4 linked regions of the Homo sapiens genome follow. The protein of the gene in region 2 interacts with the protein of the main gene of each other region in a pairwise test. Each region holds a gene or a part of one and is shown on either strand. Other genes may lie near its edges.

Evidence for each region.
Region 1: the proteins of PBX4 (region 2) and SPANXN2 interact in binary tests that used the Homo sapiens proteins (3 or more experiments, as listed by UniProt).
Region 3: the proteins of PBX4 (region 2) and CLCNKA interact in binary tests that used the Homo sapiens proteins (3 or more experiments, as listed by UniProt).
Region 4: the proteins of PBX4 (region 2) and MIPOL1 interact in binary tests that used the Homo sapiens proteins (3 or more experiments, as listed by UniProt).

The regions. Positions count from the first base shown.
Region 1 is NC_000023.11:143,717,751-143,725,709, forward strand, and holds the start of SPANXN2 (sperm protein associated with the nucleus on the X chromosome N2), read right to left. Parts: upstream 3,003-7,959; 5' UTR 2,919-3,002; coding exon 2,841-2,918; intron 1-2,840.
Region 2 is NC_000019.10:19,615,670-19,623,356, forward strand, and holds the start of PBX4 (pre-B-cell leukemia transcription factor 4), read right to left. Parts: upstream 3,019-7,687; 5' UTR 2,961-3,018; coding exon 2,842-2,960; intron 1-2,841.
Region 3 is NC_000001.11:16,025,015-16,032,035, reverse strand, and holds part of CLCNKA (chloride channel protein ClC-Ka), read right to left. Parts: intron 5,929-7,021; coding exon 5,789-5,928; intron 5,501-5,788; coding exon 5,423-5,500; intron 5,340-5,422; coding exon 5,261-5,339; intron 4,727-5,260; coding exon 4,601-4,726; intron 4,216-4,600; coding exon 4,131-4,215; intron 4,019-4,130; coding exon 3,917-4,018; intron 3,276-3,916; coding exon 3,191-3,275; intron 2,911-3,190; coding exon 2,737-2,910; intron 2,306-2,736; coding exon 2,236-2,305; intron 2,072-2,235; coding exon 1,961-2,071; intron 1,576-1,960; coding exon 1,362-1,575; intron 327-1,361; coding exon 193-326; intron 1-192. UniProt on the Homo sapiens protein: Anion-selective channel permeable to small monovalent anions with ion selectivity for chloride > bromide > nitrate > iodide. Forms a homodimeric channel where each subunit has its own ion conduction pathway.
Region 4 is NC_000014.9:37,543,921-37,550,941, reverse strand, and holds part of MIPOL1 (mirror-image polydactyly gene 1 protein), read right to left. Parts: intron 4,038-7,021; coding exon 3,971-4,037; 3' UTR 1-3,970.

The sequences.
Region 1 (7,959 bases), on a different chromosome or scaffold from region 2:
TCAGGAAGCTATCAAACCATCTCCTTTCCCACACACCAGACCTGAGGACACTTACTAGGGCAGGACTAGCAAATCAACATCACTCACATGCTCCCCAGAAAGTGATTCCTATACATTCTAACAATAGTAGATACATTCTCTGGATGAATAAAAGCTTTTCCTACCACCACCAAAAAGGCACACACCATCGCTTCTATTCTCTCCACCCATATTATCCACCGGTTTAAACTCCCCTCTTGCATCCAGTCAGACAATGGGCCAATTTGTTTCAGTTTAACCAACAGCTGGTAAAGGCTCTAAACATTAAATGGGCTTTCCATATTCCTTACCACTCCGAATCTTCAGGAAAAATTTTATAAAAAACAACAACTAACCAAACTCTCCTTAAAGGTTAAAATGGCCTGGACTTCACTTCTCCCATTGTTCCTCATGCGATTATGAGTCATTTCCTAAAAGCGCTCAGCCTAAGCCCATTTAAATTCATGTACAAATGCTCCATTTATCCTCCAGAATCTCCCTGTATTTTCCCCCCATTCTATATGGAATACTTGGCCGGCGTTACACCTCACCCAACATCTAATAAGACAGTACGCAAATGCTTACTTGACCCAGCCTAAAAGTCCATCCTCAAAACACTCCTCCCTGTCCCTACAACCAGCGGGCTGGGTCTGAATCACAGACTCCTCCTCCCCCGCTCTCCAACCTAAGTGGAGGAATTCTCACCAGGTGATGCTAACTACTCCCACAGCGCCAAAGCTAACATCCTTTGCACACTGAATGCACATTTCAAACTAAAAAGAGCACCAGATCCACATCTAGAAATTTGTTCACCCCCAAATTATTCTCCTTCCCTGACAAGACCAACCTCACTGTACTTAACAAGAATTCCAGAAGTTGCCAATCCAGAACACCTTAGTCCATAACACTCTCTGTCTCCAGTTTCCAATCTTTTGTCTCCTACTTTATTTCAGATCTTTCCTGGTTTCCCTTCCCCATGACCCTGAATAGTCCAGGCCAATTTGTCACACTAATCAAGGAGATATGACTTCAGGGCACCTTCCAAAATTTCACTCCTACTCAAATCTCCTCTTTCTCCTTTTGTCCTCTCTATCTGTGGGATATTCTAAGTCCCCACCCCGAACGTCTAACAGATGAGCCCCCTTCATCAGCCTCACTGCCTCTTAAATCAGTCACACTCCCCTCTTCCTTCCAACTGTTAAATTTGTTTGTCCACACAAATCCAGTAGTTCACAGCCCTTCCTGTTAACCTGGCCACATGAACCCTGTCCAAAATAAACCTGCATTTCACCTAATTGACCAATTCATTCGCAAAACCTGCTTATAATCTTGCTCGGCTAATCACCTTTCCCCCCCCACCAATCCATCAAATCCACCCACACCGTCACACACAGGGCTGTCACCCTCCTTCACCTCATAGCCTCTTAACTAAACATGTTACCAGTCGGATTCCAGAAAATACCTCTTATCAACCCCTCCCCTTTCTGCCGGAGCCGCTCTCCATGTATCCAAGTCAAGGGCGCTCCCTGGAAAATATCCACAAACAATTCCCTCAACTGCAACCTGTATCCTTCTGCGCTGTCAGGACCGCAATGGCTATTAGTTACAAAAACCCATTTCCTGCTCTCTCTCCAAAACCAAACAGCCTTCACCTCCTCCACTACCAACATTTCCTATCAGGCCTTCAGAGGGGCTACCCTTGCTGGCAGGTATTCAACTTGGAAAAACATAAAAGTTAAAACAAAGGGTTTGTGCAGAATTCAACCCCCACCTTCTCATGACTTGCCACCATAACCTACAACTTTTGTCTGTCCACCCCTAGTGTCTTCTTCCTTTGCGGCACAAACTCTTATCTCTGCCTACTGGCCAATTGGTCAGGAACATGCACCCTTGTGTTTCAATCTAAACATTAACACTTTGCCTAACAAGCAGACCATCCAGGTTCCTTTAGTAGCTTCTGTCTCATCTTCCTCCACACACACTAAGCAGGCTGTACATCTCATTCTAGTGTTAGCAGAACTAAACATCTCTGATGCACTCAGCACTGGGATAGCAGGTGGTCCCTTTCTTAGGGCCGTTAATCTTCCTCCTCCTGATAGTACATTTGGCCGATGTATACTCACCTTCATATCCTGCTTTATCTCCCGAAGGCTAAACTCCCCTCTCCAGGCAGCCACCCAGCAACACATTGATACCATCCTTCTCCTCTGCCAAGTCCGGTACCAGTGCCTCCAGGAAAACAACTCTGAAGTCCGTCACCCCCTGCTTCAAAACCCAAACCCTGATTACAGCTCCCCTATTCGGCAGCAAGCAGCCAGATAATCAACAATGCCCCTCTTCCTTTTATACTAAAGTAGAAGGCAAGAATGTGAGTCCAAACCACCATTTAGTAAGCACCCTGCTATTTTGCAGACCTTGATCAAAGTGAAACATTCCACGGGGGTTCGGGCCATGAGAAAAATCTTGCCTAATCGTCGTAACACAAGGCGGACACAGGTCCAACTAAAGAAACTTTCCTATGGTATCTTGCTGGGCAAAGTTCCAAGAAACACCACAATGACATCCCACTGGAAAAAGGACCAAACAGCCTGATCATAAAAACATCTTATCAATATCCTGCCGGGCAGCAAGCCATACTGCCCCGGCCCCTCCCACCCATACCTATAAGCACCCCAGCCTGTAAGCGGCGGTGGGTTCTGGCATTAAGCGGGTCCCCCACTTCCACAGGTGTCTGCAGTATTCCTGTGTTGCTGTTTGAGCCGTCCCTTCTCTGTGTGTCTTTCTTTCACCCTCACCTTCCCTTCAAAACCTAACAATCTTACCTCATCATTTTTTTTGTTATTGGATTCACAGGGGCTCTTCCTCTTCTCCCCATTGGTGCTTGAAGTCGGCTGTTCCATGATTCTGCTTGGTTGTAGAATGTCTATAGTAGGCTCTTGTAGACTGCAGACTTCCACAGCTATATTGAAGCTTGCCAGGAGGATGTCCCAGAGCTCTGGCCCTCCCTATGTATACCTTCCTGGTGGCAAGGCAAAGCCACACTCTTGAGCTTTGTTTGATCATACAGGCAGTGTCCCAGCCAATGGCAGTCCTAGGGTGGCTTAGACATCACAAAGCACCACTGCTGACCACTCCCTGGGCTTGTGGGGGACGGATGACAGGGGTGTAGAGGAAACCAAATGCTGTTGTTGTTTCAGCATCCCCTGAAGATGCATCCCAAACTAATCTGCTGCTGCTCATTTCTCCATGTTTAATGTTCATGGTTCACATGGAAGTGAGAGGATGATTCCTTCAAGCCCTTCCCCACAGTCATTCCTATGAAGTCATTCATTCTTTTGTCTTCCAGCCCTCACCATGACTTAGTATTTTAGATGTCTCACCTCAAATCCCTCCAAGCTAGTGTGGCTACATTTAATTATTGGTGGAGATGTGAATTATCCCATTTCCCTCCTACAGTTCCTTCACATGCACCTTGAAGACCATTTACTTTTAGGCTACTGCCAGGCAAATTTCAACCCATGTTCTTTTACCCAATGTCCATGTAGTTCTTTTAAGTTTCCTATCTCCAATCTGAAATAATGGCCTTCAGTCTGTCAAAACTTTGGTGAATAAACTTTCTTTACCATGTATCCTAGTCTTGTTTCAAATCAGGGGTCTATGTTCATAGTAAATGTAGTATCCCAACATGAATTCTGCCAGTATGTGGGTGGGGGAAGGAGTGGATATTCAAGTGCTGGAAGTTGTTCTGAGTATTTACCTGCAGGATGCTACAATCTAAGACCCACATGTGCACCAGTATGGGCACAGTTATACTTTGTACTGGAGATTGTGTCCAGTGTAAAAGAAAAAAAAATGCATTCAGATTGGAAAGGGAGAAGTAAAAGTATCTTTTGTCAAAGACTACCTGAGAGTATATGTAGAAAAGTCAATCTAAAAAAATGGTTCTACATTAATTGAGGTTAGCAAAATTGCAAAGTAAGAGATCAACACACAAATCAATTGTATGTTTATATATTAGCAGTTACATATGAGAAGTTTCTATATTAGAAGAGACAATGTTTTAGCCAATGGTAGTCCTAGGGTGGACTGGAAGTTAATTTCAACAACTGAAAGTTGAAACTAAGAACAGTGCAATTTAAAATATCACTAAAAATATTAAAGGCTTAGGGATAAATCTGACCAAAGATGTAAATGACTTGTACACTTAAAACTACAAAAATTTACAATGATAAATTAATGACATAAGAAAAAAATTGAGATCTATACTTTGATTTTCGGTTGGAAGATTCAATATTGTAAAATGGCAGTTATTTCCAATTTCATCTGTGGATTCAACTAAATTCTAATCAAAATTCTAAAAAGCCTTTTTAATAGAAATTGACAAGATAATTATAATATTCCTATGGAAATATAAAGTGCCTAGAATAGTCAAAAGAAAAGTGTTGAATCTTAAAAAGCTCTGGATTGCATCACTGTCAATGTTCTAGTTTTGATAGTGTAATGTGGTAGTGTATTGAAGATTTTACTATTGGGAGAGACTGGTTGAAGGGTACAAAAGGCCTCCATGTACGTATCTTTGAAACTTCTTGTGAATTTATAATTGTTTCAAAATAAAAATCTAAAAATATTTTAAAAGACAGTAAGAAAGAGGACTGAAAATAGAGAAGGCATGGCCCAGGATTTCTCCCACAGGTTGACTGACACTTGTCTCATTCTCTATAAGAAGTCACAAAACCTGATAATGAAAAAAAAAATCTAAAAATAAGACAAACGAGAAGTAGACCCTGGAATTTTGTTCCAGTGTTCATCAAGCTCACATAACTTTATTTTATACACCATAAAAACAAGAAAGGCCTAGAAAGATACCCCGCTGACCTCCAGACACAAGGCATTTATTGCATTCTCATGACTGTCATCTAAACATTAACAAATCAAAAGAAGATTCTTATTAAGGTATACATTTTTAGTGAACCCCAGACATTGTCTATAGTTCAACAATTCCATTTATTAAATGCTCACAAGCTAACTTCTAATAATTTTTTGTACTCTTGCCTGCAATCAACAGTGAGAATAACACCCTGTCATATCATGTTATGGAAAACAAAACAAACAGAAAACCAAAAGGCATATGCCACATCAAACACAGTAAGTCAGAAACTGATTACAATTTTTGAAAATAACAGCTTTCAATCATCTTACTACCTTTTAAAATTGTTTTCTAAATTTGTTTACCAAAAATGTTTCAATGGGTATATCACTATCCAAGGAAAATTAATCCAAATGTTAAGAAAACATTTAGTGCATATTTCTATTGAAAGATTACAACGTACTTTATAGAATAACTCCTATTGAAAACTTCAGTAATTATATTTTCAACCCAAATGAATAATAAACAATTAAAGGGAGTGGCTGGCAAGATGGCCAAATAGGAACAGCTCCGGTCTGCAGCTCCCAGCGAGATCAATGCAGAAGGCAGGTGATTTCTGCATTTCCAAGTGAGGTACCTGGCTCATCTCACTGAGACTGGTTAGGCAGTGGGTGCAGGCTACAGAGGGCAAGCCAAAGGAGGGTGGGGTGTCACCTCAGCTGGGAAGTACAAGCGGTCAGGGAACTCCCACCCCTAGCCAATGGAAGCTGTGAGGGACTGTGCTGTGAGGAACAGTGCACTCTGGCTCAGATACTATGCTTTTCACATGGTCTTTGCAATCTGCAGACCAGGAAATTCCCTCGGGTGCCTATGCCACCAGGGCCCTGGGTTTCAAGCACAAAACTGGGCAGCCGTTTGGGCAGACACCAAGCTAGCTGCAGGAGTTTTTTTTTTCATACCCCAGTGGCGCCTGGAATGCTAGCGAGACAGAACCGTTCACTCCCCTGGAAAGGTGGCTGAAGCCAGGGAGCCAAGTAGTCTAGCTCAGCAGATCCCACCTCCATGGAGCTCAGCAAGCGAAGATCCACTGGCTTGAAATTCTCACTGCCAGCACAGCAGTTTGAAGTCGACCTGGGATGCTCCAGCTTGGTGGGCAGAAGGGTGTCCACCATTAAGAGGGTTGAGTAGGTGGCTTTCCCCTCACAGTGTCAACAAAGCTGCAGGGAAGTTTCAACTGGGCGGACCCTACCCCAGCTCGGTAAAGCTGCTGTAGCCAGACTGCCTCTTTAGATTCCTCCTCTCTGAGCAGGGCATCTCTGAAAGAAAGGCAGCAGCCCCAGTCAGGGGCTTATAGATAAAACTCCATGTACCTGGGACCGAGCACTTGGGGGAAGGGGTGGCTGTGGGCGCAGATACAGCGGACTTAAACGTTCCTGCCTACTGGATCTGAAGAGAGCAATGGATCTCCCAGCACAATGCTCGAGCTCTGCTAAGGGACAGACTGCCTCCTCAAGTGGGTCCCTGACCACCATGCCTCCTGACTGGGAGACACCTCCAAGGAGGGATTTATAGACACTTCATACAGGAGAGCTCCGGCTGGCATGTGGTGGGTGCCCCTCTGGAACGAAGCTTCCAGAAGAAGGAAGAGGCGGCAATATTTGCTGTTCTGCAGCCTCTGCTGGTGATACCCAGGCAAACAGGGTCTGGAGTGGACCTCCAGCAAACTCCAGCAGACCTGCAGCACAGGGGCCTGACTGTTAGAAGAAAACAAACAGAAAGGAATAGCATCAACATCAACAAAAAGGACATCCACACAAAAACCCCATCTGAAGGTCACCAACATCAAAGACCAATAATAGATAAATCCATGAAGATGAGGAAAAGCCAGGGCAAAAAAGCTGAAACTTCCAAAAACCAGAACACCTTTTCTTCTCCAAAGGATCACAACTCCCCAGCAAGAGAACAAAACTGGATGGAGAATGAGTTTGACAAATTGACAGAAGTAGGCTTCAGAAGGTGGGTCATAATAAACTCCTCCGAGCTAAAAAAGCATGTTCTAACCCAATGCAAGGAAGCTAAGAACCTTGAAAAAAGGTTAGAGGAATTGACAACTAGAATAATCAGTTTAGAGAAGAACATAAATGACCTGATGGACCTGAAAAACACAGAGCAAGAACTTTGTGAATCATACACAAATATCAATAGCCGAATTGATCAAGCAGAAGAAAGCATATCAGACATTGAAGATTAACTTAATGAAATAAAGTGTGAAGACAAGATTAGAGAAAAAAGAATGAAAAGGAATGAACAAAGCCTCCAAGAAATATGGGACTATGTGAAAAGACCAAACCTACATTTGATTGGTGTACCTAAAAGTGACAGGGAGAATGGAACCAAGTTGGAAAACACTCTCAGGATATTATCCAGCAGAACTTCCACAGCCTAGCAATGTGTCCAGAATTAGTGGGTTCTTGGTCTCGCTGACTTCAAGAATGAAGCTGCAGACCCTCGCGGTGAGTGTTACAGTTTTTAAAGATGGTGTGTCCGGAGTTTGTGCCTTCAGATGTTCAGATGCGTCTGGAGTTTCTTCCTTCTGGTGGGTTCGTGGTCTCGCTGACTTCAGGAGTGAAGCTGCAGACGTTGGTGGCGAGTGTTACAGCTCTTAAAGGCAGCACGTCTGGAGTTGTTCGTTCCTCCCGTCCGGAGTTGTTCATCCCTCCTGGTGGGTTCGTGGTCTCCCTGGCTTTAGGAGTGAAGCTGCAGACCTTCGCAGTGAGTGTTACAGCTCATAAAGGCAGGGTGGACCCAAAGAGTGAGCAGCAGCAAGATTTATTGTGAAGAGCGAAATAACAAAGCTTCCACAGCGTGGAAGGGGACCTGAGTGGGTTGCCACTGCTGACTGGGGCAGCCTGCTTTTATTCCCTTATCTGGCCCCACCCACATCCTGCTGATTGGTCCATTTTACAGAGAGCTGATTGGTCCGTTTTGACAGGGTGCTGATTGGTGCATTTACAAACCTTTAGCTAGACACAAAAGTTCTCCAAGTCCCCACTAGATTAGCTAGACACAGAGCA
Region 2 (7,687 bases):
TCACCTAAGGTCAGGAATTTGTGACCAGCCTGGCCAACACGGTGAAACCCCATCTCTACTAAAAATACAAAACTAGCCACGCATGGGGCGTATGCCTGTAGTCCCGGCTACTCAGGAAGCTGAGGCAGGAGAATCGCTTGAACCCGGGAGGCAGAGGTTGCAGTGAGCCGAGATAGCGCCACTGCACTCCAGCCTGGGCAACAGAGTGAGAGTCCGTCACACACACACACACACAATTCATTGAAGAACAAATGCATGCATTATCCACCTTTTTATCTGCCTCTTCCTTCCTAGGACTGCTGTTTACCTGGCTTTGTAACCCCTCCCCACTACAGGGCTCTAGTGGGTACACAGTCCACACCACCAGACCCTAGTCCCATACCCAGAGACCGTCCCTCACCTTACAACAGTCCCCATTCAACAAGGCCTCATCCTCCAAAAGGACTTCAGTCCTTTCCTTTCCTTTTCTGTAATAATCACTGCAGGACCCAGACACAGTGGGCTGCCTTGTGAAGCAGATTCTACGGATCCTGGCTGGCTGACAAGTGGTGAGTGGAGGTAAACGGGATGGGAGGTCTAAAAACTCCTTTATTTTTCCCCATTGCAACTGGAATAAATAGTCCGAACTCCCTATTGATTGTTATCCAGATGACAAAAACAAAACTATTTTTTTATGGAGACAGAGTCTCACTCTGTCGCCCAGGTTGGAATGCAGTGGCGCTTGAACCCAGGCACCTCCTGGATTCAAGTGTTTCTCCTGCCTCAGCCTCCCAAGTAGCTGGGACCATAGACATGCACCACCACGCCCAGCTAATTTTCGTATTTTTAGTAGAGATGGGGTTTTGCCATGTTGGCCAGGCTGGTCTCGAACTCTTGACCTCAGGTGATCTGCCCACCTTGGCCTCCCAAAGTGCAGGGATTACAGGTGTCAGCCACTGTGCCTGGCTGAACAAACAAAACTCTTTACTGAGATTCGTAGGCCCCATGTAATTGGGTTCCAGTCTCCCTTTATTATTATTATTATTTTTTGTTCAGACGGAATCTCGCTCTGTCGCCCAGGCTGGAGTGCAGTGGTGTGATCTCGGCTCACTGCAGCCTCCGCCTCCCAGGTTCCAGTGATTCTCCTGCCTCAGCCTCCCAAGTAGTTGGGATTATAGGTGTGCACCACTACACCCAGCTAATTTTTGTATTTTTGGTAGAGACTGGGTTTCACCATGTTGGCCAGGCTGGTATTGAACTCCTGACCTCGTGATTCACCTGCCTTGGCCTCCCAAAGTGCTGGGATTACAGGCGTGAGCCACCGCACCTGGCCCCAGCCTTCCTTTAAACTCAACTCTTTCCCTCCCTGGCTAGGAACTTTCTCTTCCCAGCCAGACTCCGCTTTTTACATCCTCTTTCCCACCTCAGGGCCTCTGAAGGTGCTGTCCTCTCCAAAGATGTTCTTCTCCACCTGGCTTCCTATAGCATGCAACCCCTATCCCTACAGCTTTTATTGCCATTTATTTTATTTTTTTCTTTTCTCAGATTGGTACAGGATGGTCTCACTATGTTGCCCAGGCTGGTCTCAAACTGCTGGACTCAAGTGATCCTCCCACTGGGAGGCAGCTGGGATTACCTACCCATGCTACCATGCCTGGCTTATACTTTTTTGCTTTTGTTTGAGACAGGGTCTAGCTCTGTCACCCAGGCTGGAGTGCAATGGCTTGATTCGGCTCACTGCAGCCTCAGCCTCCTAAGTAGCTGGGACTACAGGCTTGCATCATCACACCTAACTAATTTTTTAATTTTATTTTTAGTAGAGACGAGGTCTTACTACATTGTCCAGGTTGGTCTCGAACTCCTGAGCTCAAGCAATCCTCCTGCCTCAGCCTCCTAAAGTGCTGTGATTAGAGATGTGAGCCACTCCACCCAGTCCTTATTTTTTGCTATTTACATTCCCTCCCCTAAATCATGTACTCGAGAGCAGGGACTATGTCAGCACCCGGTTCCCTATCCAGTTATTGTAAGGATTCAATAAAAATTTGCTGAATTCATTAAAAAGAAAATAGGTCTTCCATCTCCACCCACTCCTCTACTAACCCTTTTCCCAAAAGTTCTCGATGGTTCCCACACCAAGTTACCCCAGTTCAGTTCTTCAGTCTCCTGCAGACATTCCTGAGTCCCATTCCCAGCCACTCACTCTCCATCATCTGCCCTGGAAACTTCCCACCCACAGGCCGGGCTCGGTGGCTCGCGCCTGTAATCCCAGCACTTAGGGAGGCCGAGACGGAATGAGTGCTTGAACCCAGGAGTTTAAGCAACTATAGCGAGACCCCTGTCTCTACAAAATATACAAAAAAATCAGCCGGGCGTGGTTGCACGTGCGCCTGTGGTCCCAGCTACTCGGGAGGCTGAGGCAGGAGAATCAACTGAGCCGGGGAGGTGGATGCTGCAGTGAGCCATGATCACGCCACTGCACTCCAGCCTGGGCGACAGAGCAAGACCGTGTCAAACAACAACAAAAAAACTTCCAGCCGCAGGAGTCCCATTAACGTACCCATTTAGTCATTCACTCGTCAAAAGTCCCGTACGTGCCCATTTCTCAGCCCTACTCCCTAAACCCCTAAACCCAACCTTCTCGCCCCAAGATGAGCTGCTGAAAATCCTTCACGCCACTGCTCGGCCCCATAAGGCCTATCCAGCCCGTTCCGTTTGAACCCCATACATCCCTTCGTCCTCGGGACCCCCCTCCAGCCCTCCTCAAGCGCCCCTCGTCAGTCTGGCCTCCACGCCCCGTCCCCTCAGCCCGCCAACCTCACTGCCACGACCCTGCGTGGCCCCTGCCGAGCCCGCGGGCAGCACCTGGCCTGTGCCTCGTCCAGGCTCTGGTCGGTGATGGCCATGATCTGCTGCAGGACGTCGCTCGTGTCGAGGCGCCGCGGGGCGGGGGGCGATGGCGCGGGGCGCGGCGGGGCGGCCATGAGCGGCAGGGCCGGGCGGGCGCTGTGAGGGTGCCGTCGAGCCTGGAGCACTACCACTGGCGCCGCAGCCAACCGCCGCTGCCTGAGCGCCGCGCCCGCTCTCGCTCGCGCCTAAGCCACGCCCACCGCCGCTATCGCCAGCCAACCCGTGTATTGCACCGCCTACAGACACGCCCCTTCATCTCCGTCAGCCAACCGGCGCCACGCACCGCCCCCGGGACTCGCCCCGAACTTCCCCCTCTCCGGGCTTGGACTGGGTTTGGGGTTGCCGAGGCAACGGCACTTCTCATAAGCGCCCTCCTTCCCCTTGAGAGAGGGCAGCGCTGGCTCCGCTCCAGCCAGAGGCCCCCATCCCTCACATCTCGCGCGGTGCACGCCTCCTTCAGCCCCACTCGCATCTCCTCAGAGTTCCTGCTCCTCCTCAGGGCCCCCTTCTCCTCAAAGCCCTCGGTCCTCAGAGACCCTCACTCCCCAGAGCACCCCAACTCTTCCTCCAAGCCACCCCCTCCTCCTCAGAACCCCACACCTCTTATAGCTTGATCGACAGCCCCCATTCATTTCCAGAAGCCCCAAGCCCCAGACCCCTGCTCAGTCCCCCTAATGCTCCCTGCATCCTCAGCCCCATCAGGTGGGCCACTGGGGCCCCTGGCTCTTCCTCTAGAGCTTTCCACGCCCCGTTCACCTGGCTAAGGCGGGGCGCAGGCGTGCGTGGTTGATGGCAACGAGGAGGTCAGAACGCAGCGCTTTTCTCCACTGCAGAAATCAATTCCAGTCACCTTTCAAGGTCCAGCTGAAGAGTGACCTCGCTTGTTTATTCATCTTCGCAGATTACAGTTCTGGGCATAGAAAATGCTACCACGTGGTTACCGAATGAAGGAAGGATGTTTACTGAGAGACTCCCCTGCAGTGTACCCCAAATCAGAGCGAATCCTCACATCTTTGTTTCTAGTCCTTAGGACACAGCATCGAAGGCTCCTAGTGCACAAGAAAAGGAACTGGGCGGTGGCTCATGCCTGTAATCCTAGCACTTTGGGCGGCAGAGGCGGGAGGATCACTTGAGCACGGGAGTTTGAGACCAGCTTGGGCAACATAGTGAGACCCCGTGGTGGTGCACGCCTGTGGTCCCAGCTATTTGGGACTTGAGAGGCTGAAGTGGGAGGATCACTTGGGCCTGGGAATTTGAGGCTGCAGTGAGCCATGATTGCACCACTGCACTGCAGCCTGGTTGACGGAGACCAGGTCTCAAAAAAAAAAAAAAAAAAAAAAAGTAATGGCCTGGACATGAATCTCTTCTCCAAAGTCACAGAACCTCCTGGAGCCTATTTGCTATGAGGACAGTCTCCAGATGTGGGCTCAGTAAAAGGTCCTCAGCCTGCTGGCTGGGAGCCCTTCCAGGGTGGGGCCCACGTTCTCTCCATTGCTGCTGGGGAGGAAATTCAAACACCATCTGGTATGGCTGGATTGGAGAGCGTCGGGAGACTCCAAAGGGGACGGCAGGGAGTGAAAAATGAAAGACATTGACCGAGTGTCTGGACAATAGGGAAAGCTCTCTGATGAAGGAAACCGACACTTGGCTCCAATGACAGAAAGTAATAGATTGCATGGGAGCCACGGAGACCAGTGCCTGTTCAAAAGGTCACCCACAAGCACAGCACTGCCCAGGAGGCCTGAACAGTAGTGGCCTTCAGGCTGGGTGCAGTGGCTGACACCTATGATCCCAACACTTTGGGAGTCTGAGGTGGGAGATTACTTGAGCCCAGGAGTTCAAGACCAGTCTGGGGAACATAGTGAGACCCCATCTCTACAAAAATAAAAATTAAAAAAATAGCTAAATTAGCTGGTCATGGTCCCAGCTACTTGGGAGGCTGAGGCGGGAGGATAAGTTGGGCTCAGGAGGTCGAGGCTACAGTGAGCTGTGTTTGTGCCACTGCACTCCAGCCTGGGTGAGAGAGCAAAACCTGCCCCCAACCCCAACAAAGTAGTATCCTTCAGAGAACTTGGAGGGGTGGGCACTGAAAGCTTCAGGGACCAGCAGAGACAAAAATTTGAAGCCACTTGGTGGAGACGGGAGATCGACAAGAGGAAATGGTCTCGAAGGAGACCCACGGGGTGCAGGTTAAAACCTGGAGGAGCTGATGTGAACAGCCAGCTCAGAGCGCCTGAGACAGAGTTGCCTTTTTTTTTTTTTTTTTTTTTTAGACAGAAATCTTACTCTGTTGCCCAGGCTGGAGTGTAGTGGCGTGACCTTGGCTCACTGCAACCTCCACCTCCTGGGTTCAAGCACTTCTCCTGCCTTAGCCTCCTCCTGAGTAGCTTACAGGCACCCACCACCACGCCCGGCTAATTTTTGCATTTTTAGTAGAAATGAGGTTTCACCATGTTGGCCAGGCTAGTTTCAAACTTCTGACCTCAGGTGATCTGCCTGCCTCGGCCGCCCAAAGTGCTGGGATTACAGGTATGAGCCACCTCACCCGTCCCACTGTTGCCATTTGGAGGTCATCAGGGGTCTCTACTGCATAGAAATTAGTTGGCAGCCTTGGCACTCAAAGTGCTCGGCCAGGGCCATTTAATATAGAAGGACCTGGGAGTTTTGGGTTCTTTGACAATGCATATTTCAGTGGTTTAAGAATTTGGCACAGGTGGCTGGGCATGGCGGCTCACATCTCTGAGTGACCTGGGTTCAAATTCTAGCTGTTATTCAGCATGGGATTCAAAAGTAGGGACATAACCCCACCTCCTCACTGGTGAGGTGGGAGCAGAGAATGACATCCTGGCACACACTGTGCCTTGGAGGGGGCCTCCCTGAGCATCTCAGAGGGGGCTCATGATGGATCTGGCACTCATGGGTTGGGTGCTGTGGGGTGAGGTAGGGAAAGCCCAGCTGAGCTTGGGACCAACCCTGGGCTTCGTGGGAATCTGAAGTCCCTTTCCTAGGGGCCTCTCTGGTCCCTCGGGGCCTGTATGTGCCATCTCCAAGCTGTGTTTACCATGGGCCAGATCACAACCTGTCTGAATCAGTGTTCTCACATAAAAATCAGAAAGACTGATCCCAGCACTTTGGGAGGCCAAAGCAGGCGGATCATGAGGTCAGGAGTTCAAGACCAGCCTGGCCAATATGGTGAAATCCCATCTCTATTAAAATACAAAAAATTAGCCAGACATGGTGGTGCATGCCTGTAGTCCCAGCTACTTGGGAGGCTGAGGCAGAAGAATCGCTTGAACCTGGAGGGGGCGGAGGTTGCAGTGAGCTGAGATCATGTGAGACTCTGTCTCAAAAAAAAAAAAAAAAAAAAAAGGCCAGGCATGGCGGCTCACGCCTATAGTCCCAGCACTTTGAGAGGCTGAGGCGGGCGGCTCACCTGAGGTCAGGAGTTCGAGACCAGCCTGGCCAACATGGTGAAACCCCATCTCTACTAAAAATAAAAAATTTAGCTGGGTGTGGTGGCATATCCCTGTAATCCCAGCTACCCGGGAGGCTGATGCAGGAGAATCACTTGAACCTGGGAGGCAGAGGTTGCAGTGAGCTGAGATCACGTCATTGCAGTCCAGCCTGGGAAACAGAGCAAGACTCCGTCTCAAAAAAAAAAAAAAAAAAAAGCCCAGCACAGTGGCTCATGCCTGTAATCCCAGCACTTTGAGAGGCCGAGGCGGGTGGATCACAAGGTCGGGAGTTCAAGATAAGCCTGGCCAAGATGGTGAAACCCCATCTCTAACAAAAATACAAAAATTAGCCGGGCACGGTGGCAGGTGCCTGTAATCGCAACTACTTGGGAGGCTGAGGCAGGAGAATCGCTTGAAACCCGGGGGCGGAGGTTGCAGCGAGCCGAGATTGCACCACTACACTCCAGCCTGGAGGACAGAGTGACACTCCATCACAAAAAAATAAAAAATTTAAAAAAAAAAGCACCTAAAGTGTTTACCAGTATGCCAGGCACATCAGAAGAGCTTGAGAAATGGTCATGCTCAAATCCTGCATCCCACTACCTGAACCCCACAACCTGTGGCTGGAAGTATGAATACAGGTGGTGGGGAATGGGATAGAAACGGCTGGGCACGTGACCTTGAACCATCAGGGCTCAAACAAAAGGGCAGTGGGGAGGGAGGGGGCTCATAGGGTCCAGACACTACTCTGAGCTGCAGAGAAAGACAGGGAGACAGGCAGTGAGATGGAGGCAGAGCAACAGATGGGGGAAACAAAGAACAGAAGCAGAGAGAAACAGATTCAAGACCCCAGTAAGAGAGAGGGGCCAGGCGTGGTGGCTCATGCCTATAATCCCAGCACTTTGGGAGGCCAAGGTGGGTAGGTGGATCGCTTGAGGTCAAGAGTTCGAGACCAGCCTGACTAACATGGTGGGACCCCATCTCTACTAAAAATATAAAGATTAGTCAGGCACGCGGTAGCTCACACCTGTAATCCCAGTACTTTGGGAAGCTGAGGTGGGTGGATCATTCAAGGTCAGGAGTTTGAGACGAGCCTGGCCAACATTGGTGAAACCTCATCTCTACTATAATACAAAAATTAGCCGAGTGTAGTGGCAGATGCCTATAACCCAGCTATTCGGGAAGCTGAGGCAGGAGAATCGCTTGAACCCAGGAGGCAGAAGTTGCAGTAACCTGAGATCAAGCCACTGCACTCCAGCCTGGGTGACAGAGCGAGACTCCCTCTCAAAGATAAACAAACAAATAAATAAATAATAAAAATAAAAATACAGAGATTAGCTGGACGT
Region 3 (7,021 bases), on a different chromosome or scaffold from region 2:
AAGGGAGGGTAGCCATGATTTCCATTTTGCTGATGAGGAAACTGAGGCTCAGGTGAAGTGACTTGCTCAAGGTCACACGGTTGGTTGCTAAGTCACAGAGCCTGGATGCAGATCCTGTCTGCCTGACAGGTTCAAGAAGGAGGCAGAGGGCATCCCCTACCCCCGACTTCCTCCTCCCTTCCAGCTGGGCACCTGTGCTCTCCACCAGGGGATACTCGGTCACGTCTGTGGAGGTCACAACCTTGACCACCTCCTCCAGCGGCGTGTCCTTGGCCAGTGTGGTGATGCTGTGGTTCATGAAGTGCTCCACCCTCACATGGTGGGAGCTGCAGGCAGAGGGGCTCCCATCAGGTCCCGGAGTCGGGGATGTCAGACCCAGGCCAGCAAGGGGATCTGAGGGGAGCTTTGCTTGAACCAGGGACCCACGGCTCTGGAGTGTGAGCAGGGCTGGAGAGGTTCCTGGAATGAGGGACTCCTAGAACCCACAGTGGGAGGAAACCTGGGGACCACATTACTGATGGCCCAGTTCCAAATCCCCAACCCCCTGGTCCCCCATGTCCCCCAGACCAGCTTCACTTGGGTCTTGTCCCACCTTGGACAGAGCTGAGTGTGAGATGACGGAAAACCAGTATCTGCCAGGTGGTCAGTGACTGGCCATCCATTAATGAATAATGAGATTGGAGTACAGACCCAGCAGCCTTCCCTGGATAATTCCATTTGATTATAAAAGTGTATGTCACCCCCAAGGAAAAACTTGGAAGGTTGAAAATCACTGGTATAAACAGCCCCATTTTCCCGATGGGGAAACAGGTTCAGAGCAAGGCAGCAGCTTGTTTGTGTTTGGAGCGGGGCCTCCGATTCGGACTCTCAGAGCCTCTTTGGTCTGCTTTTCTGGCGCCAGAAGCTGCTCTGGTCCTATCTGGTTGAGTGAGGACTTCAAAGCCCATTTCCATTCTCGTTCCACCTCCTGCTCCCAAAGTCCCAGCAAGGACAGCAGGAGTGGGGAGAGGGGAGGAGACCTCTCGGATCTGGTGCTGACTCTCTGTGTCACCTGGAGCAAGACACGGCACCTCTCTGAGCTCTGGTTTCCTCAATCTGTACACGGGGCAATACTCATCCTCCTGCTGTGAAGCCCAGCTGACCCCTAGACAGACACTGAGGCCTCAAGGCCAAGGACTTGCCCAAGGTCACCCAGGGCACTGGGGAGAGTGGAGATGAGAGCACAGCTGTGTGTCAGCCCCTCCCAGCCCCCATGTCGGAGGTCAGCTGCGGTGGTGTTTCTTTTTGGAGGTGCCCTCCACCCCCAGCCAAGCCCAAACACTGTGACCCCCTTCAGTCAGCCTGAGGTGGGCACCACTCACCCGATGTTGCGGCCCAGAATCCGTGGCAGGTATGGCAGCTTCTTGACAATGATGGTGCCATCATAGAAGGAGGGCTGGCAGCTCTGTGCAATGGCGTTGGCTGCCAGCACCGCCATCAGCACGGGCAGTGCATGCACTATCTGGCCGGTCAGCTCAAAGGCCAGCAGCGCCGTGGAGATGGTGTGGGTCACAGCCCCTGAGAAGGCTGCAGCCCCTGCCGGGGCAGAGCCACACAGGTCGGCTCAGGCCAGGAGGCAGGGGCCAGCCTGATGTGAGGGAATAACTAGCCTGGCTGCTGCCGGGGGCTAGGGTGGGAATTGTAAGAGGCCACAGCCTGGGCACTGTGGGAAGTGCCCCAAGGCCTGGGCTTGGTGAGAGGAGAGGGATAAGGGAGGCCGCAGGGCTGGGGACAGGAGCCACGAGGAAGTGATGGGCCCCGGGGAATGGTGGGGCTCAGGAGGGACAGACCCCCATGAGGGGTAGGGGGTTCACTGGAGGACTCAGTGACTGCTCCGTGCCCTGGGGAACCACCAGCCAATTCTCCAGGTCCAGCCCAGCCCCACGACATTGCCCACCCAGCAGGGCCGTGACCCACTCACCTGCCAGAGCATACCCCCCGGGCATGATGGGATTGGTAACCCCTCCAGTCACAATGCCCTCAGGGAAGGCGACGGCAAGAGCCTCTCCCAAGAGGCGCCCGATGGCAGCTCCTGGCCACAGACTTAGGGTGAGGGGGAGCCAGGCTGACCCGGCCCCCACAGCCCTCCATCCCTGAGGACCATCCTTAGTACCACCCGGGAAGAGGGTGAACCAGGATGCATGGCCCTGCCCCAAGAACCCCAAAACTCTCAGAACCTCAGGACCCCAGACTCACCAAGGATAAAGATGGGCATGAAGTACCCGGCAGGCATGGGGATGGTGGTGGCCAGAATCAGCATCCAGAACTGCAGGAAGGGGGAGCCCAGGGCAGAGGTTAGAGGCCGCTGGGCAAGGTGTGGACAAGAGAAGACAGGACAGGGGACAGGGGAGTGTCCTAGATAGAAAGAGGGTGCCAGCCATGCACCCACTGCCAGAGTCTGGCATTAGGGGAGGGTCCTCACCCTGAGAAATGCCCACTGTATGCCTGGCACTGTGCCAGGTACATTCCTTTCTTCCTTCTCTGCCTTCCCAGTAACCACCCCATTTTAAAGATGGGAAGACTGAGGTCCAGAGACCTGAAGCCACTTATCCAGGACCATGCAGTGGGCAGGGGGCACAGAAGGAAGTGTGGGTGAGAGGCCTGGGCTCCATGCCACCAGGTGCAGGGAGGCACCCCCGCCCCTCCCCACCAGAGCTGGTCCTGGCTCTGTGCACACCTGGGGGTCAGGGGGCCCACCTTCATAACCAGGAAGAAGGCAAGGGTCCCAAAGATGGTGAACCGCGGGTGGTACCATTCCCACCAAAGGTGCTGGGGGTCGAGCTCCTCGGGCCAGGGTGGGCTGGAGTTCTGGGTCATCAGCGCCCAGGAGTGGTTGTCGAACAGCGAGTCCAGATGCTGCTTCATGGACAGCTGTGGCGGGGCAGGTGGGAACTGGACATGAGGGGCCCCCCCCAGCGGCAGACCCCAGCCTCCCCCGCACCGCCTGACCCCGCCTGGAATCCTCCCCTGCCACTTCCCAGCGGGGGGCCTTGGGCAGGGCTCTGACCTCCCAGAGCCATGGTCTCCTTATCTGCAGAATGATGCCCAGGTGTCACCCTGGTGGGGTGCTGAGGGTATTACGTGAGACACATGCAAAGGGGAAAACAAATGGGGGTTCCCACTCCTGCCACCCCCGCTCAGGACCCCTTACCCGAGAAGCTAGGAAGTGGCCCACACCAGGCGGGTAGGTGATGGAGGCGAGAAGCAAGGTGGCCAGAGCGGAGTACACAGGCTTGCTGTGGGGGGTGGGTGAGCTCTAGGGCTGGCCCTCCCTTTCCTACATCCCGAGGAGAGGGAAGTAGGACCTGGTCCAGGCAGCAGCAGAGCTCCCCACCTGGGGGCTGATACCGAGGCAAGGACTGGTGAGGAGGAAGGGCGGGAGCAGGGAACATGGCCCCCTCCAGCGGGTAGAACCCGTGGGGTGAGCCCCTCAACTGGGTATGACTGAGGGCAGAGGAATCACGCAGGAGATTGAGAGGAGAATTGGGGCAGAGGCAGGCTAGGAGGGAGGAGACAGTGGGCCGGGCCGGGGCGGGCCATGTGCATCTCCGGGGCAGGAGGGCTGGCCAATGCCAAGGCCAACGCCAGGGGCCACACAAGGTTTGAAGGGGCACAGGGTTTGAGGCTCAGTGAGGGGGTGGGGTTTCGCTGAGAGATTGTAGAATGAAGGAGGGATGGGGGTTCAATGTGGGGTTCGTAGCCCAGTAAGGAAGGGGGGACAGTGACTGTGGGGACTTGGAGAGGGTTGTTAGATGCTCCACGGGCTAGGGAGGGATTTAGGGGCTCAGTGGGAGGATGGGGGTGGGGCTTTCTACATAAGGTCTGGAGTCCACAAGGGACTCACTGAGATGTCCCCAGCCCCTAGCCCAGAGCCTACCTAGTAGCCAGCAGTTTGGAGCTGTACCGATTGGTCTTGATGAAGCTGAGGAAGGTTCGCTGACAGAAGAGGTAAGCACAGCTCAGGACGCCGCAGATGCCACTGCGGGGTGAAGGGAGGTAAGACCAGAGCCTGACCCCAGTACCAGGGGCCGCAGTCCAGGCCTTGGGGGGAATGCCTTTTGGACTCTCAGGGGCCCAAGGCACCCACTCACCCCAGCGCCACAAAAAAGAAGATCTCAGGCAGGTCGAAGGGAACGTCCACCCGGAAACTGGTCTTGTAGAGGGAGGTGATGGTCTCTGGGGAAGGAGGGCAGTGGGGAGCCAAGATGGCGCTCCCACCCGACCCAAACTCAAGTCCCAGACTAACAGCCCAGGGTGGAGGGGGTGCCAGGTCCTGACTCGGAATCTGTGTCCTGGCATTCCAGGCCCCCACAACCAGGCTCTTGCCTCCCTGCCCAGCCTCATCCCTTCTACCCTCAGGGCCCCTTGCCCCTCAACACAGGTCAGGGGCTCAACACAGGTCAGCCCCTTCCATCCTCCCTGAAGGAGGTGGGAACACGGAGGAGGGAAAAGAGGGAGAGAGAGGGAAGGGAAGAGCAAGAGATGTACACAGAGGAGAAGGGAGGTCTCCCTCGCCCCGGCCCCCAGGCAGGGCCAGGGTCAGGCAGCCCAGGGGGCTCACCCTGCTCGCTGTTGAAGACTGCCAGGAGCCGGAATATGAAGGCCCCGCAGGTGGCCGCAAAGAAGCCCCTCCAGTAATCCCGGACAGAGAAGTGGGAAGACATGACCTCGATGCTGAACAGGACGCCTGGGGGCGACACTGATGTCAGGTGGGCCCCCACCCCCACCCACCTGTGGCTGTAGGGCCCCCTCCCCCATCTCGCCTCCTCCCTGAGCCATCTGTCCTGCTGTCCTACAGCCCGGACAGGGACAGACAGAAGGGGAGGGCAGGGCTTGCGCCCTGGGCGGGGAGGACCCCGCTGCCCAGGGATCCATCCAGCCTGGAATGCAGGTGTGCGCCCTCTCCCTATCGGGTGGGAACGGTTTGATCCCCATTTTACAGAGGAGGAAGCTGCGCTCAGAGAGGCCAAGGGGCCAGTGGATTTCAAACCCAAGTCTGTGTAATGTTATCCTGAAGCCTCTCAGCACCGCCCAACCACGCCCCCAACCACCCGCCCCGCCCCGCCGCCCCCGGGGGGTGGCTATACCCAAAGCGGGGCTGAAGTGAGAACAAGAATGAGCCCCATCCCCTCCTCCAGGCTCTCAGCTGGGCCGAGGGAGCCCAGGGTGTGAGGGGAGGAGCTTGAGGGACCCAGGGGGCGGGGCATGAGGGGGGTCTCACCGCTGAAGGGAGCTGCAAAGACTGTGGCCACGCCCACTGCCGCCGCTGCCACCAGCATTTCGTTTTGCTTGCTCTTGTTCTGGGGGATCCGAGTCCAGGGCTCAGAGTCAGCCCCCTCCCTCCCCACTCCCATTTCTCCAAGGAAGCCCCCGAGTCCCTAACCTCAGGCTCCCCGATGGTCGTGGTGCGCACACGGCCCAGGTAGGCAGCGATCATTACAGACAGGTGCACGAAAGGGCCCTGCAGAGGGAAGGGTGGGCCCAGGTGAGGGCAGCAGAGACAGTCTCACCCCGAGGCAGCACGGCTTCCCCACCACACCCCCTCCTCCATCTCCCCAACCCCCAGGGCTGTCCTCAGGTAGCTTTTGTCACACTGGGGACCTGGCCTGGCTCTTCCCCTAAGACTGAGCTCCCTGAAGGCAGGCACTGGCCTGAGTCTGCTCTGACCCAGCTTTGGTGGGGTATGGGGGAGAGCTGGGGCAGGGTAGGGTGGGCGGGGTGGCTGGGGTGCCCTCACACCTGACCATACCACTTTGCCCAGGAACAGGGTGCTGCCGGTGGCCAGGGTGCAGGAGAGGCCCACCACCTTGGCCCCAAAGTTCTTGATATCCAGGTAGTCCTCCAAGATCACACCCGCCAACATGGTCTTCAGCTCCGGGATTCCAGAACCTTAGCCAGACAGGACAGGAACAAGCAGGGGACAATCTCTAGATTAAAACTCTCTGCCAGGCGCAGTGGCTCACGCCTGTAATCCCAGCACTTTGGGAGGCCGAGGCAGGCGGATCGCGAGGTCAGGAGTTCGAGACCAGCCTTGCCAACATGGTGAAACCCCATCTCTACTAAAGATACAAAAAATTAGCCGGGCATGGTGGCGGGTGCCTGCAGTCCCAGCTACTTGGGAGGCTGAGGCAGGAGAATTGCTTGAACCTGGGAGGCAGAGGTTGCAGTGAGCCAAGATTGTGCCATTGCACTCCACCTTGGGCAACAAGAGTGAAACTCCATCTCAAAAACAAACGAACAAACAAACAAAAAAAACTCTCATAACTCTACCCGCACGGTGTTTTCACATTATGATTTTTTTTTTTCCTTTGAGACAGGGTATCACCCTATTGTCCAGGCTGGAATGCAGTGGTTCGATCTCGGCTCATTATAACCCCGACTTCCTCAGGCTCAAAAGTGATCCTCCCACCTCAGCCTTCCAAGTAGCTGGGACTACAGGCAGGCACCACCACACCTGGCTAACTTTTTGTTGTGGTGGTTGTTTTTTATTTTTTGTAGAGATGGGGTTTCACCATGTTGTCCAAGCTGCTCTTGAACACCTGGGATCAAGTGATCCACCCACCTCCCAAAGTGCTGGGATTATAGACTGAGTCACTGCACCTAGTCCTATTATGATCACGCAGAACCCTCAGAGGTTAGGATGCATAAACTCATTTTGCAGATTTGGATGCTAGAGTCAGAGAGGAATGCGAGTTGTCCACGTTCCTCCCACTGGGACTGGCAGATGGCTGTGTCAGGATGGGGGAGCTCTGAACAGAACCTCAGGCCACCACTGAGTGAGCCTGGAGCTCCCCTCTGCTGGCCTGGAGCTGGAGGAAGGGCTGAGTGGCCTGAGGGAGCGGCACCTCCTCCATGGGCCCCTTCCTGGCACCAGCACAGGCCCCACAGGGCAATCTCCTTCCAAGGAGCCCTTGGAAAGCGAGTAGGGCCAGCAGTGACCCAAGAGTCAAGATCTGGCCTTCTTGCTGTGTGCCTTCAGGCA
Region 4 (7,021 bases), on a different chromosome or scaffold from region 2:
AAATATATAATAAAAAAGAAAAGTTTTCTTTTTCTAATTTCAGTATATATGCTGCCGAAGCAAGCACAAGAAAAACTCTTCAAAAAAGATTTTTCTAGTAAAAGGATTACAAAAAATTTGGTAACTTGAGATGCTCTTCTGGAACGTATGCTGCTGGTTTAAATGTGCAAGCTCCAACTTAACAAATGTTTAAAATATTTGAGTTTTTAAAACAGTGCCAAAACAAACCACATCTTTTCTAGAGATGACATATTTAGCTAAGCACGAGCAAAATAAATCTTTCAACCATTCCATGTATTTGTTTAAAAGCCTAAGAAACCACGTGCATTTCCAATAAAACATGAACAAAACACTGAAATCACTGGAGCCTAACAGTTCACTTATAAATCATTTTTTTAAAAGGTAAATGTATCGGTGTGTGTGCATGTATATATATATATATATATGTAAAATATGAATAGATAGGTTAGCTGTAAATACTAGTTACCAACAACACAATAAAATCAGTAAAAAATTTGGGTTCCAAACACATCATATGTGAAAAGACAAAAATATATAAGCCATGGCTATTTCATCATAGAATGCCTTATTAATCACAAGTATTTGAAAATAGAAAGTTTAAAAATAATTGTGATCTTTAAGAATAGTACATATAAAATGTTTTTCTACGAAACTATATTCAATATTAAAAGTATAAATCTTTAATATTCTAGATTTTTAATAAAATAAACAAATTATATAAATAAGCAACCTGATAAGAAGATGACTGAATTTATTTGAATAAGGAAATATACAAAGGATCAACTTTATCATTGAAAAAAATTAGCAAAATATTTTACTCCATATTTAAAATACATTAATAATTTCTAACTTATTTATAAAATTTTAAATTCTCATATATTAATAATTAATAACTTTGCTTTAACTGCTTATACCTTGCTTATAACCAATAACTTTGCTTATTACTGGTTTTAGCTCTAAATTGCTCTAGGAGATAGAGCAAGCCTTGAAGTTTAGACTACCATGTTAAAAAACTAAGCTGATAGGTTTTAGCATCAGGCCAAATTAAAAACAGTACAAAGAGACTCATGTTATGTTTTATTAGCAATGAATTGTCACAATATTCCTAATTAGTGAAGGCTGAGGCAAAGCATACTGCCACTATAATACCATAGAGAGGTGGTAATAATGTGATGCTGTTTACACATGCAGTTCACATTATTGTACTTCATTGAAAAAAATGTGTACAATCTTTTGATTATTAGGGAATTTGTATGTAGTATGTGAAAGAGATGGTACTATCACAACAGAAATTGCAAGAGTAAAATCTTTACTTTGAAATTTTTTTCTTACAGAGAGATTTAGAGACTCATAGTTGCATGGAGTGTGGTTATAAGATCTTAGTTCTAGGTCCTAGCCAGTCCTTGGCAAATTCCAAGGCTTACTGAGTCTGTTTCCTCATCTGTAGAATGAATATAATAATAATTATAATGACAGTAATACTAAAATTATCATCACCATCGTTATTATATGGGTTATATATATAATTTATTATTATTATGATTGTCGATAGGATCAAATGAAAAAACAGATGTAAAAGGACTTTGTAAATCATCAAGTGCTACAAATGTTAGTATTAGCATTTTGCCTTTCCTGTAAATTACTTATTTTTACAAGAAGAAGTGAATTCTCATGTTACTATAGGATTTAGAGTTGATGATGTGTAAAGCAAACTCAAAGCAACATTTCTCAGCAGTGTGGAATACTTCTAAAGTTGCATTATTGTTGAATACATAGAGAACCTATCTTCAGTAGGCAAGGCTATTCCTTCATACAGAAAAAATATATAAAGACCATCTGACACACTGTTGATGGACACTTTTAAGTGTAAGAAATTAATTAAGATAATATTTGGCTGTAATACTTTGCATTTGAAATTTTGTAGACAATTCATTTTCAAGAGGATGTGATATTTTTGGGAGATTACCTATACTGAACAATAGTGGATGTTAGAATTATTTTGCAAATTTAACTTTATAATATCATATTCTATAAAAGTTCTGCATATTAATTATAGGAATTGGTTTTTCTAATTTGATCATTTAAGCGTAGAAAGATTTGTTTGGAAATTGTGAAATGTCTTTATACTATATTTTGTGTATTCTAAAAGACAAAATAACTCAAGAAAAGTTCATCTGCTTTCAACATTAAACCGAAAATTCAAATTTACTTGTGATTTATTTTAAGTGAGATCAGGAATGGACTACTTTGTGACAAAAATTGTTTCTCTTTACTTACCTGCACCTCCCAGATGACTTTAAAGATAATGTTTCTTCACATAGGGAGCTGTTACACGTTTCAAATAGAGCCCAGAGACAAGACTCCATGCATGACCAAATCATTACATATTTCTCTATTATAGAGTCATTGGTCTATGAGAGGATATAATTCTCTTTAGGACTATAGAGCAAATTAAATCAGTTTATTTTTAACCCCTGTTGTCCCTTATTTTCTAATTCTCATAGTTAAAAAAGTTACTTTAATGGATACAGATTTAATAAGGAAGAAATAGAGTTTGTTAGCATTATGATTCTTTTGTGATCTATGACAAAGTAGCTTACATTTTCCTGTGGAGTAAAAAAAAATTGAAATGGATAATCTGCTATGGTATATGAAAGAATGGTACAATAAATTGTCCTGAATGTACTTATCCTGTAAATAGGCAATGGTAGATAATTTAGCTCAATCTTAAAGATGAATTAAAAACGTATAGACTTAGAAAAAATTTTACTTCCCTACAAAATTTTTGCTAATTAAATCTCTACTTGTCTATTTCATCCTGTTCCAGGCACAGTCATTTCCTCTTGGTCTTTCGTCTGTCTAATCTAAAAATATGAAAGTATTTTGCCTATAACTAATTACATAAAAATCTCAGTTCTATTCATAACTTCATATGACTGCTATGCTGTAACTATCTTATTTCTGGAATAAAATAAAAAGCAGGTAACCTTAACCAAATGGCAAGTTTACTTTTTTCTAAATTCTTATATTTCTACATTACAATTGTATTGAATATTATATATTAGATCCTCCTCCTCCACAATAAAAATCAAATGGCAATTAAAAAAAGATAAACAATAAGAATACTTAATAGGTTTGATGGTCTCTTTTAAGACAGAGGCATGCTAATTTTCAAGCAAAAATGACAGAGACTTATAGCTTAAGTAGAATTCAGATAATTATTCAGACCCAATATTAAAAAATACTGACAATGTGAATTTATAAGTACACATTAACAGTCTCCTCTTTTTATTGAAAACAGTTTGCATTATTTGTAGTGAAACAAAAATCATGCCTTGATGAATGTAATTTTAATATATCCATCTCTTATTAAACAAATTATACATTTAATTCTTGGCACCTATATTTAATATCTTTTATACTAACAAAGATTACATACACGCATTGAAGGAAGACTACACACTCATGTCTAAGCCTCTCTCATCAGTTAAGAAATATACCCTATATTGAAAAATGCATGTATTTGAAGTTTTGACCTAACACAGTGGATTAAAGCTTAGACAATATTTACTTTGCCGCACTTTGATTCAGAAAGGGCCATATGTGAAGATATGATCCTAACCAACTTTAACATGTTTCTATAATGATCTCTCAGTAAAAAGATTTATATTAAAGATATTGAGATATAAAATAGTTACAAAATAAGCTGTAACCTTATAGCTACCCATTGGTAAAAGTCTATAGTTAATATATTTGGATAAATAACTCAAGTCAGCAGCAAAGTGGTTAAACATTTGTGATTTGATTTTATCTCAGCTTGGAATGTGGTTGGAGTGTCCCACTTCTAACAACTGTTTGCTAAGTTAAGGCTTTGGTGTTTACACAGTGTTGAATGAAGCAGCCTGGTCACCAGATGTGATCGCTTCCCCAGACTGTCGTTTTTTTTCAATCAGATCACTGTCCTCATGGTCCCGGTTCCAACCTTCTTCCTCAGTACATCCACCAGCCTTTCCAACCTAAGTTGGGGTTGGGATGGGGGTGAGAAGGGGAAAAAAAGGGCAATTATTGTTAAGAATGTCCTGGCTGATAAAGGACAGTATTTGCCTGTGACCAAGCAGTCCTCACGGTCATGTTAAGAAACAAAGCATTACTGTGAGAGACACTGCTACAGAGTGCCAAGTATTTGAGGTTAAAAAACCCAGCAACGACACAAACTTTAACCCAGATCCTTGAATTATGTCAGCATTAGATGCCACACAAAATTTATAGGACACTTATTTCAATACATTTAGCTACTTGCATTAAGGTTGTGAATGAATCATTTACTATGCAATGACAGGATCACATATTAAATGTAGAATAAACTGATTTTACCTAAGAAAAGCACATATTTCAAAACACAAATATCAGCAATGTTTCACCTGTTACTTAGATAAGTGATTCATTGGTTGGTATACTGTGTAACTTCTATGTACTAAATTCCCATCTTTTCATAGAATCAGCTGATAAACATAAAGCCAGAAATAGTGGTTAGGTGGGAAACATTTCAAGTTACAGTAGCATGGAAATAATTTAAAAATACACAATGATTTGATACTAATAAAACCAGACTTTTTGTTCTAATTAAAAAAACACGTTTCTATTTCTGAGTAGCATAGATGCACTAGAAATTACCTACATAGACATTTTAGTCAAAGAAAATGATTTTTTTAGTTGACTAAAAACTAGTCAATTAAATTGAAAAGAGAGTCGAAAGTTCACAAGTCCATTCTGCAGTGTTCTTAGACTACTCTATGAGCGGGAGGTCACATTCATGTAGATCAGTAAGAGATGCTTGACAAAAGATGATAGAATCAGACCATTAATTGGTTTTCTTCTTTTATTTTCTTTACTGAAAGCATAAAACCTCAACCAAAAATCTTGCTTGATGTTATACACATAGAAATCTTCCTTATAAGTAAATATCATGCCTAGCAGTTTTCATATACACAATCTTCCTCTCTCAAAGACTTTACGGTAAGCGGCACAGTCTAGTCTGCTTCACAGTTTGCCTCATTTATATGGATCCATGCATGAGGGTCCTCTGCAAATAAACACAGCACAGAGCTAGACACTGAAGGAATGAGGGTATTCTTAGTGTCATACAAAGCTGGTTTAGATGATTTGGAAGTTCCACTGAGGAATGGACAAATCAACTGCATATAATGCTGAAAACTAGCTGAAGTTTATTGGATGATTTTGTATCTATCAAGAATTCTGTTAACAAAAAACAGGAAAATAAAACAAAATTATTCAGTGCATCAAAAAACTTTGCTTTAAGAACACAGTAATGATCTTAGAGTAAAAAGGCAAATCTTGTCTAAGTTTATTACTACAAACTTTTCTAAAATGCAAACTATACATAAATGTTGTATATCCACTAAAACAGTCTAGTGGTACAAATACCTGAACTAGAAGAGTCATTAGAAAATTCACTGTATTCTCAGATTAGTCTGCAATACTTGAACCTTCCCTAGTGGTTAAAAACTAGTGCTAACTTACACACTCTGAATATTATGACTCATAGCACTACATGAATCCTTTAAGGCAATGTTTAATTAACTTGAGTTGTGCAATGAGGGGAAAGAAAAATGTGAGTATGAATTATAGAACTACACTATGAAATTTTAAGTTTATTGTTAAAATCTGATAGTAACTTGAAATAACCATTAAATAGCTCCCAGCAGAAATCATTATAAGATATTAGTAGCATTGCTTTGCATATATTGTTAAAAGCCAGAAAATATTACTTGCAAACTGGCTAAATGTATCCCTTCTCCATAATATAATTTATACTACTAACTAGTGATAAAACCTTTTTCACAATATAAAAGTCAGCTCTATGTTGTCTAGTTATTATTATTGTTACTACAAATTCAGAATCAGTGGAATCCCAAATTACTGAGATGAATCTGTGTTGTGCTTCTTCTGGCTTCTCCTTTACAGACAGGCTCATCTTACTTTTGTTTCCTTTTTCTACATTAGGACATCTTTCCATTTAGAACTCTTATATGTTGTTAAGGTAAGAGATTAGGAGGAAATAGTTAAATATCATGTTTTGCAATGTCCTCATTGTATTTCAACAATTACCACATCAACTACAATCTCAATTTATCCAGGTCGAATGATTTATGAAAACCTGATCTCAGAAATGAGAAAGATGTCAATTACTTAGTTTTGTGAAAGCTTACTGACTTCTGTAACACAATGAAGCACCTATTCCTTCCTGTAAGGAATGGAATACACCTGCCAAACATGGGCTGTGCCAACAGGAAGGTAGACGTGTGTGTCTGTTGAAGCACCTTGCAGGATTTGCCTGCAGGCTATTCTTACTGTCCAAATCAATAATGTCCTTAAAAAATTATGTAGCTCACTAAAATAGGCTCCAGCTGCTTTAAATATTACTCAGTGATATCTTCTCAACAGCTTCATGAAACAGGAAAAGGGCTAGAGCTAGGATTAGGATTTCTCCATTTTAAATATGAAGAAACTGAAGAACAGACAAGTAAACCCTTATACAAGGTTGTGAGGAGGAGGAGACAAAGTCACTAAAAATGCTGCACCTAGGGTTTGCCATTAGTATTAAAGATCTTGCCCTCTCTCAGTCAGAAGGATGAGAAGACTTTAAATATGATTTTTGTTTCTTTTATCACTATGGTTGTTGTTTTGTTGGTATTTTTAATGTTGATGTATTTTATCATCTTTTCTTTTCATTTTGCTCCCTTGATGACACTTAAACGCTCATGACTTCCAAATCTAGACCCCTTTCTCAAAATTCTCTTCTGAGTTTTAGACTCACTTATCCAACTGCCTTCAAGAAATCTCCTCTTGCTTATACAATTGGCCTATGATACTCAGTATATTTAAAACAAAACTATTTTACTTCTTATGCATGTTTCAGTATTTCTTATCTTGATTAATGTTGCCATCCATTCACTCACTCAACCTTTCAGCTAAAATA